2 linked regions of the Homo sapiens genome follow. The protein of the gene in region 1 interacts with the protein of each later gene in a biochemical or structural test. Each region holds a gene or a part of one and is shown in the gene's direction. Other genes may lie near its edges.

Region 1 (4,226 bases):
CAGGTCACTTCACACAGGGGCTAATATATCAATGGGACAAATTCCTAGAAATGGAACTCCAGAACCAAAAAGTATATGCAGTTGTAATTCTGACAGTATTGCCAAATTGTTCACAGTAAAGACGGGCCCATTTCCAGTCTTACCAGCCATGTGCAAAAACCTTATCTCAGGCCTCTCTGCCGCCACTCATCCCTGCTTGTAAATGTGTCCTCCACACGGTTGTCAGCACCATATTTCTAAAATGCAAATCTGGCAAGTCATTTTCTTGCTTTCCCTGCTTAAAGCCCTTCAGGTCATCTTCACTGCTCTTCAAGGCTTTTCACCATCTAAATATGTCCTGTCCAGGGTGGACTATCAGCCTCACATAGCTACTGAGGCTACATGTGGCCAGTCTGAATCGAGATGTGATGTAAGTATAAGAAAAACACTGGGTTGCAAAGACGTGGTATGATAAAAAGAATGTAAAAATCTCATTACATGCTGAAATGATTAAGTTTTGGATATGTCAAGCTAAATAACATCATTACAGTTAATTTCATCTGTTTCTTTATCCTTTAAAAATTTCCTAAAAATCATTAAAATTAATTTCATCTGTTTCTTTATCCTTTAAAAAATATGGCTGCAAAAATTTTAGAATGAACCTACTGGCTCCCATTGTATTTCTGCTGGACAGTGCCCATCTAGGTAGGCTCTCCCTCCTTCATCCCCTCACCCATCTCCTCTCCTCCCAGGCCCCAGGCCCACTCTGTGCTTCAGACCACAGTGGTCCCTAAGCCTCAGGTGCTTTTCCCCCCAATCCTGTCCTCCCCATCTCGCCGCCACACTCAATTTATTAAGATTCTGCTTGAAACTTCCCCTTGGAGGCCTTGGAGAAGTTTTGCTCCTTGGTTCACAGGTCCGCCTCCCCTCACCAGCCCTTGACATCAGGGCCTTGCTCTGCTCTTTGGGCAGCAAGAAACAATTCAGTGCTGTTGGTTAAATCAAGCAATGGAGGAGAAAAGCCCGCAGAAGCCCGTCTAAAGGGTAGAGTTGGAGGGAGGGAAGGGGTAACAGGTCACAATTACCAGATGAACACATTCAAATTTTCAAAAATGGGTAAGTTTAACATGGATTCAGAATGTGAATTACTTTTTAGGATCAAATAATAGTGGTAACAGCAGTAAGAGTTACAAAGAATAAGAAACACAGGAGAAACTTACTTTCTTTGCATAGTCTACTCACAAGGGAGGCCTGGCCCTGGGACCCGGGTCCGCGCCCGTCCCCCTTCTCCCCGCCCACCTCGAGCCTGCAGGAGAGGGGACCCCGAGGGCCCAGAGGCACCGGACCTACTCACCCGGCAGGCCGCTCTCCTCGGTGCAGACAGCACAGGGAGGAGGGGGAAGCGGCTCTGCCGGGAACAGGGAGGGACCTCCAGGGAAGCGAAACTGAAACTTTGCGCCCAGTCCGCAGGGCGGGCCGCGCCTTTACCGCCCAGCTGCCTCCCGGAGCCCCCGCGCCCTCCCGACGCGCAGAGCCATGGCCTCCCACCTGCGCCCGCCGTCCCCGCTCCTCGTGCGGGTGTACAAGTCCGGCCCCCGAGTACGAAGGAAGCTGGAGAGCTACTTCCAGAGCTCTAAGTCCTCGGGCGGCGGGGAGTGCACGGTCAGCACCCAGGAACACGAAGCCCCGGGCACCTTCCGGGTGGAGTTCAGTGAAAGGGCAGGTGAGCTTCGGGCGGCCAGGCTGCGAAAGCCCTCTGGGGGCCCGGCCCCCGGGTTTCCAGGCGGACCCAGTTCCAGCTGACCTAGGGGAGAGGGCGGGAGAAAGTATGTCACTGTGCGGTGGCGGACAGGGACGGGGCCCTACTGCCAAGAGACTCACTGAGACAGTGAACACTCGGTGGAGGATGGGGCCTCACATGTGCCTGGTGCGGGTCTGGCTGACGGCGCCTTAGTGTGGATGCTTTCCATATCCTCATTCTAACTTAATTTCTCAGCTGTCATCTTCCTTCCCCCAGATGCCTGCCAGCTGCTGTCCTTGTCATTCAGGGATTCCACTTTTATGTTTTAAATAATGGTTCCATTGTTCCATCCATGAACAAAAGGATGTTCCATTTTGTGTTTTTGAGGATTACAAAAGTGATATATGCTCACTATAGAAATAAAAGAGTAAAAAAGAAAACAACCTGAAGATAAACAATGTGACCATTTGGTGTATTTCCTTCCTGCCTTTTTTTATGAATGCCAGCAAACACATGTATATTTACAAAATTCGGAGTCTGCACTTTTGATTCCTGCTGTTGTCACTTACCTGTATAATGAGTATTGAAATGGGAGACTGGGCCGGGTGCGGTGGCTCACGCCTGTAATCCTAGCACTTTGGAGGCCGAGGTTGGTGGATCACCTGAGGCCAGGAGTTCGAGACCAGCCTGGCCAACATGGGGAAATTCCGTCTCTACTAATAATACAAAAATTACCCGGGCATGGTGGTGCGCACCTGTAATCCAAGCTACTCTGGAGGCTGAGGCAGGAGAATCGCTGGAACTCGGGAGGCAGAGAGGTTGCAGTGAGACGAGGTCCTACCATTGCACTCCAGCCTGGGTGACAGAGTGAGACTCCGTCTAAAAAAAAAAAAAAAAAAAAAAAGAAGGAAGGAAGGGAGGGAGGGAGGGAAAGAAGGAAGAAGGAAAGGGGAGACTGGAGACAGTTTTAGAAACATGATGTTTAATCGGTGGACAATGTTCCATTGTCATTAAGCTTTCACTTCTATAGTAAAACTTAATCCGCACACTTTAGAGCTCTTAATAGCTCCCCGACTTTCTCCATCGCCAACCCACCATTCCAGGATGCAGGGAGCAGCCTTACTGGGAGGTGCTGGGGCAGAGTACAGACACAGGAATGAGAGGATTACTTGAAATCTCTCCCATTTTTATGTGTGTATATGTGTGTGTTTAATGTCTCCACTGAAGCTAAGGAGAGAGTGTTGAAAAAAGGAGAGCACCAAATACTTGTTGACGAAAAACCTGTGCCCATTTTCCTGGTACCCACTGAAAATTCAATAAAGAAGAACACGAGACCTCAAATTTCTTCACTGACACAATCACAAGCAGAAACACCGTCTGGTGATATGCATCAACATGAAGGACATATTCCTAATGCTGTGGATTCCTGTCTCCAAAAGGTGAGTATTGAAAGAAGGAGCTGGCTGTGCCTGCGCCTCCTCTCCAGTCACCAGCCTCATGTATTATTGATCCAACACCCATGTGCTGGGCACGTACATGGGAGCCAGGCACTGTTTTAGGCACTGGACACAGAGATGAATATAACAGACAAGGCCCCTGCTCTCAGGCAGCTTATACTGGGGGCCAGGTCATGCACAGAAAGACAGTAGGCAAGTAAACAAAATAAATAAAACCATTTTATTTATTTGGAGAGAAACAGCGCCAGGGCAAGCAAGGGGAAGATGGGGGTGGTGTTACTTCTTTTTTTCCCCCCAAGACAGAGTCTCACTTTATCGCCCAGGCTGGAGTACAGTGGCACAATCATGGCTCACTGCAGAGTTGACCTCCTGGGCTCAAGGGATCCTCTCACCTCAGTCTCCTGAGTAGCTAGGACTATAGGCGCCACTACACCCAGCCAATTTTTTTTTTTTTTGTAGAAACAGAGTCTCACTATGTTGCCCAGGCTGTTCTCAAATTCCTGGGCTCAAGCGATCTGCCCGCCTTGGCCTCCCAAAGTGCTGGGATTACAGTCATGAATTACTGCACCTGGCCTGGTGCTACTTCTAACCAGAAATCAGAGACAACTTGACTGAGGAGGTGATGTTTGGCCTGAAACTTGAATGATGACAAGATTCATTCAACAATAGATATCCACTGCCTACTGTGTTCCAGGCACTGTTATAGGAGCTGGGGAGGCAGCCAGGAACATGGCAGACTCGGCTTCCAGGGACGGCACCTTCTAGAGAGAGAAACAGACAATATTAGTAAACAATAGATATATAATAAAATGTCTGCCAGTCATACCTGCTAGGAAGAAGAATAAGTGACAGACAGTGACAGAACCACCATTTAAAATAGGATGTCTGGAAAAACCTCAAGTGAGGTGACATCTCTAGCCAAGTGGATTTCTGGGCGGAAAGTGTCCTAGAGGGAAGCATAGGTGCAAAGTCCCCAAGAGCTGACATTTTGAGGCCCAGAAGCTTTAAGGAAGCCAGTGTGGTGGGGAGGGCAGTGAGCAATGGAGAGA
Region 2 (3,305 bases), on another chromosome or scaffold:
GAGGCAGGAGAATTGCTTGAACCCAGAAGGCAGAGGTTGCAGCGAGCCGAGATCGCGCCACTGCACTCCAGCCTGGCGACAGAACGAGACTCCGTCTTAAAAAAAAGAAAAAAAAAGAAATTTCAGCTATTAAAGGTTCTGCAGAAATAGACCACATAGATATATTAAAATATATGACTTTGGCTGGGTGTGGTGTCTTACATTGAACATTGTGGTTCACAAGGTTCAAGCCCCATCTATCTAAGCCCCCCCCCCCTTTTTTTTAAATCTTTGGGAACTTTGGTTAAAATTTTTAAAGTTTACACAGTGGCTCATGCCTGTAATCTCAGCACTTTGGGAGGTCAATGTGGGCAGATCATTTGAGTCCAGGACTTCCAGACCAGCCTGGACAACATGGCAAAACCCTGTCTCTACAAAAAAATACAAAAAATTGACCAGATGTGATAGTGTGCACCTGTAGTCCCAGCTAGTGGAGAGGGTGAGGTGGGATGATTACCTGACCCAGGAGGTTGAGGCTGCAGTGAGCCATGATTGCACCACTGCACTCCAGCCTGCATGACAGTGAGACCATGTCTCAAAAAAAAAAAACAATTTAGGTTAAGATTGGACAATGAATGTGTGGGTGCAGTCAACTTTTTTTTTTTTTTTTTTTTTCTTTTTTTTTTTTTTGAGAGTCTTGCTCTGTCGCCCAGGCTGGAGTTCAGTGGCTCAATCTCGGCTCACTGCAACCTCCACCTCCTGGGTTCAACCGATTCTCCTGCCTCAGCCTCCCAAGTAGCTGGGATTACAGGCGTGTGCCACCACACCTTGCTGATTTTTGTATTTTTAAAGTTCAGCAGTTGATTCTCCTGTATACCCAACACTGCTCTATTTAAAACGAGGAGGTGGCCTGGCGTAGTGGTTCACGTCTGTAATCCCAACACTTTGGGAGGCCAAGGCGGGCAGATCACAAGGTCAGGAGTTTGATTTTTTTATTTTTTTTGAGACGGAGTCAAGGTCAGGAATTTGAGACCAGCCTGGCCAATATGGTGAAACCCTGTGTCTGTTTTTTTTGTTGTTTTGTTTTTTGTTTTTGTTTTTGTTTTTCTTTTCGAGACAGAGTCTCGCTCTGTCGTCCAGGCTGGAGTGCAGTGGCGCCATCTCGGCTCACTGCAAGCTCCGCTTCCTGGGTTCACGCCATTCTCCTGCCTCACCCTCCCGAGTAGCTGGGACTACAGGTGCCTGCCACCACACCCAGCTAATTTTTTGTATTTTTAGTAGAGACAGGGTTTCACCGTGTTAGCCAGGATGGTCTCGATCTCCTGACCTCATGATCCACCCCTCTCGGCCTCCCAAATTGCTGGGATTACAGGTGTGAGCCACCGCGCCTAGCCGAAACCCCATCTCTACTAAAAATACAAAACTTACTCAGGCATGGTGGCAGGCGCCTGTAGTCCCAGCTACTCGGGAGGCTGAGGCAGGAGAATAGTTTGAACCCGGGAGGTGGTGGTTGCAGTGATCTGAGATCACACCGTTGCACTGCAGCCTGGGCAACACAGCAAGACTCCATCTCAAAAAAAAGAAATTATTTTAAATTATATTTTAGGCTGAGTGCGATGGCCCAGTACACCTGTAATCCCAGCACTTTGAGAGGCTGAAGTAGGAAGATCACTTGAGGCCAAGGGTTTGACACCAGCCCTGGCAACATAATGATGTCCCATCTCTTTTATTTTTAAAAAATTTTAAAAATACATTTGAAAACTTCTAAAAGCATTAAGAAATACATTTCAGCTATTAAGGGTTGTACAAAAATGGTCTACAAGTATATATTAAAATATATGACTTTGACTGGGCGTGGTGGCTCACACTTGTAATCTCAGCACTTTGGGAGGCCCAGGTGGGCAGATCATTTCAGCACAGGAGTCTGAGACCAGCCTGGGCAACGTGGGGAAACCTTGTGTCTACAAAAAACAAAAATACAAAAAAGCCGGGTTTGGTGGCGCTCACCTGGTCACAGCAGCTCAGGACGCTAGGGCAGGAGAATAACCCTGCACTTGGGAGGTCAAGGCTGCAGTGAGCCAAGATCACACCACTGCACTCCAGCCTAGGCAATGGAGTGAGACCTTGTCTCAAAAAAAAAAAAAAAAAAAAAAGACTTTTCTAAATGTTCACATCTGGCATCTTGGCTAAGGGGTAATATCTCCTGTCCTTACCTTTATTTCTATATAGAAGTGGGTTTTTGCTCAAGTTTGTGTCTCTGTTGCAGAGAATGAATATAAATGAAGTTAAATGAATTAGAGCTTTATAAAAGCATTATAGAAATACAAGAAAGAAAAATATATTATCAGTTTATGTATTGTGTGTGCATTTTGTATGTACAAATGCTAAGTGATCCTTCATTTGGGATCCTAGGTCCTTCATTTGATATGCTAATCATGGATGCTTTGTAGGTGCTGGAGCTGGCAGGTAATGCTTCTAAGGATCTCAAAGTAAAGCGTATCACTCCGCGTCACTTGCAGCTTGCAATCCGTGGTGATGAAGAGTTGGATTCTCTTATCAAGGCTACCATAGCTGGGGGTGGTATGTATTACTACTTAAGCCTTGATTCTTATTGGTCTTTCTGACTAATATATCGTTCAGATCAATGATATAGTATATTTGATCGGTTAACTAGAAAGCATATAAACTTTAATTTCATAAATACTAAATCTATAACAATTCTAAGCTTTTCATAATGATCTGAATAAATATTTCACCTTCTAGCCATATGTAATGCTATTTTTATTTTAGCCAGTTCTTTGTCTAAATTTCATATGATACTTAAAGCCTGATGTTTAACATATTTCCCATACTTTTTTAACTGTGTTTGAAAAATGAGTTGGAGAAGTTGCATAACATACACTGGAAAGGGTTGAAATAAATACACTTGAAAAGTGGGTCAGGATCAATGAAAGTGAGAGGTAAGTTGGTGGTTCTTAATCTTCTTTGGATAACCCTCAAAGAACCTCGTGAAAGCTGTGGTTACAGCTGGGCACGGTGGCTCACACCTGTAATCTCAGCACTTTGGGAGGCTGAGAGGCCCCGGATCACCCGAGGTCAGGAGTTCAAGACCAGCCTGGCCAACGTGGTGAAACCCCATCTCTACTAAAAATACAAAAATTAGCTGGGCGTGGTGGTGCACACCTGTAGTCCCAGCTACTCAGGAGGCTGAGGTAGGAGAATCACTTGAACCCAGGACAGAGGTCGCAGTGAGCCAAGATTACACCACTGCACCCCAGCATTGGCGACAAAGTGAGGCCATCTCAAAAAAAAAAAAAAAAAAAAGC

What was found.
Region 2: of the proteins of DTX3L (region 1) and H2AZ2, one has a biochemical effect on the other in vitro, tested with the Homo sapiens proteins (one study listed by BioGRID).

Annotation. Positions count from the first base shown.
Region 1 is NC_000003.12:122,562,912-122,567,137, forward strand, and holds the start of DTX3L (E3 ubiquitin-protein ligase DTX3L), read left to right. Parts: upstream 1-1,426; 5' UTR 1,427-1,515; coding exon 1,516-1,702; exon of another isoform or gene 1,703-1,873; intron 1,874-2,947; coding exon 2,948-3,159; intron 3,160-4,226.
Region 2 is NC_000007.14:44,834,783-44,838,087, reverse strand, and holds part of H2AZ2 (histone H2A.V), read left to right. Parts: intron 1-2,429; coding exon 2,430-2,559; intron 2,560-3,305. UniProt on the Homo sapiens protein: Variant histone H2A which replaces conventional H2A in a subset of nucleosomes. Nucleosomes wrap and compact DNA into chromatin, limiting DNA accessibility to the cellular machineries which require DNA as a template.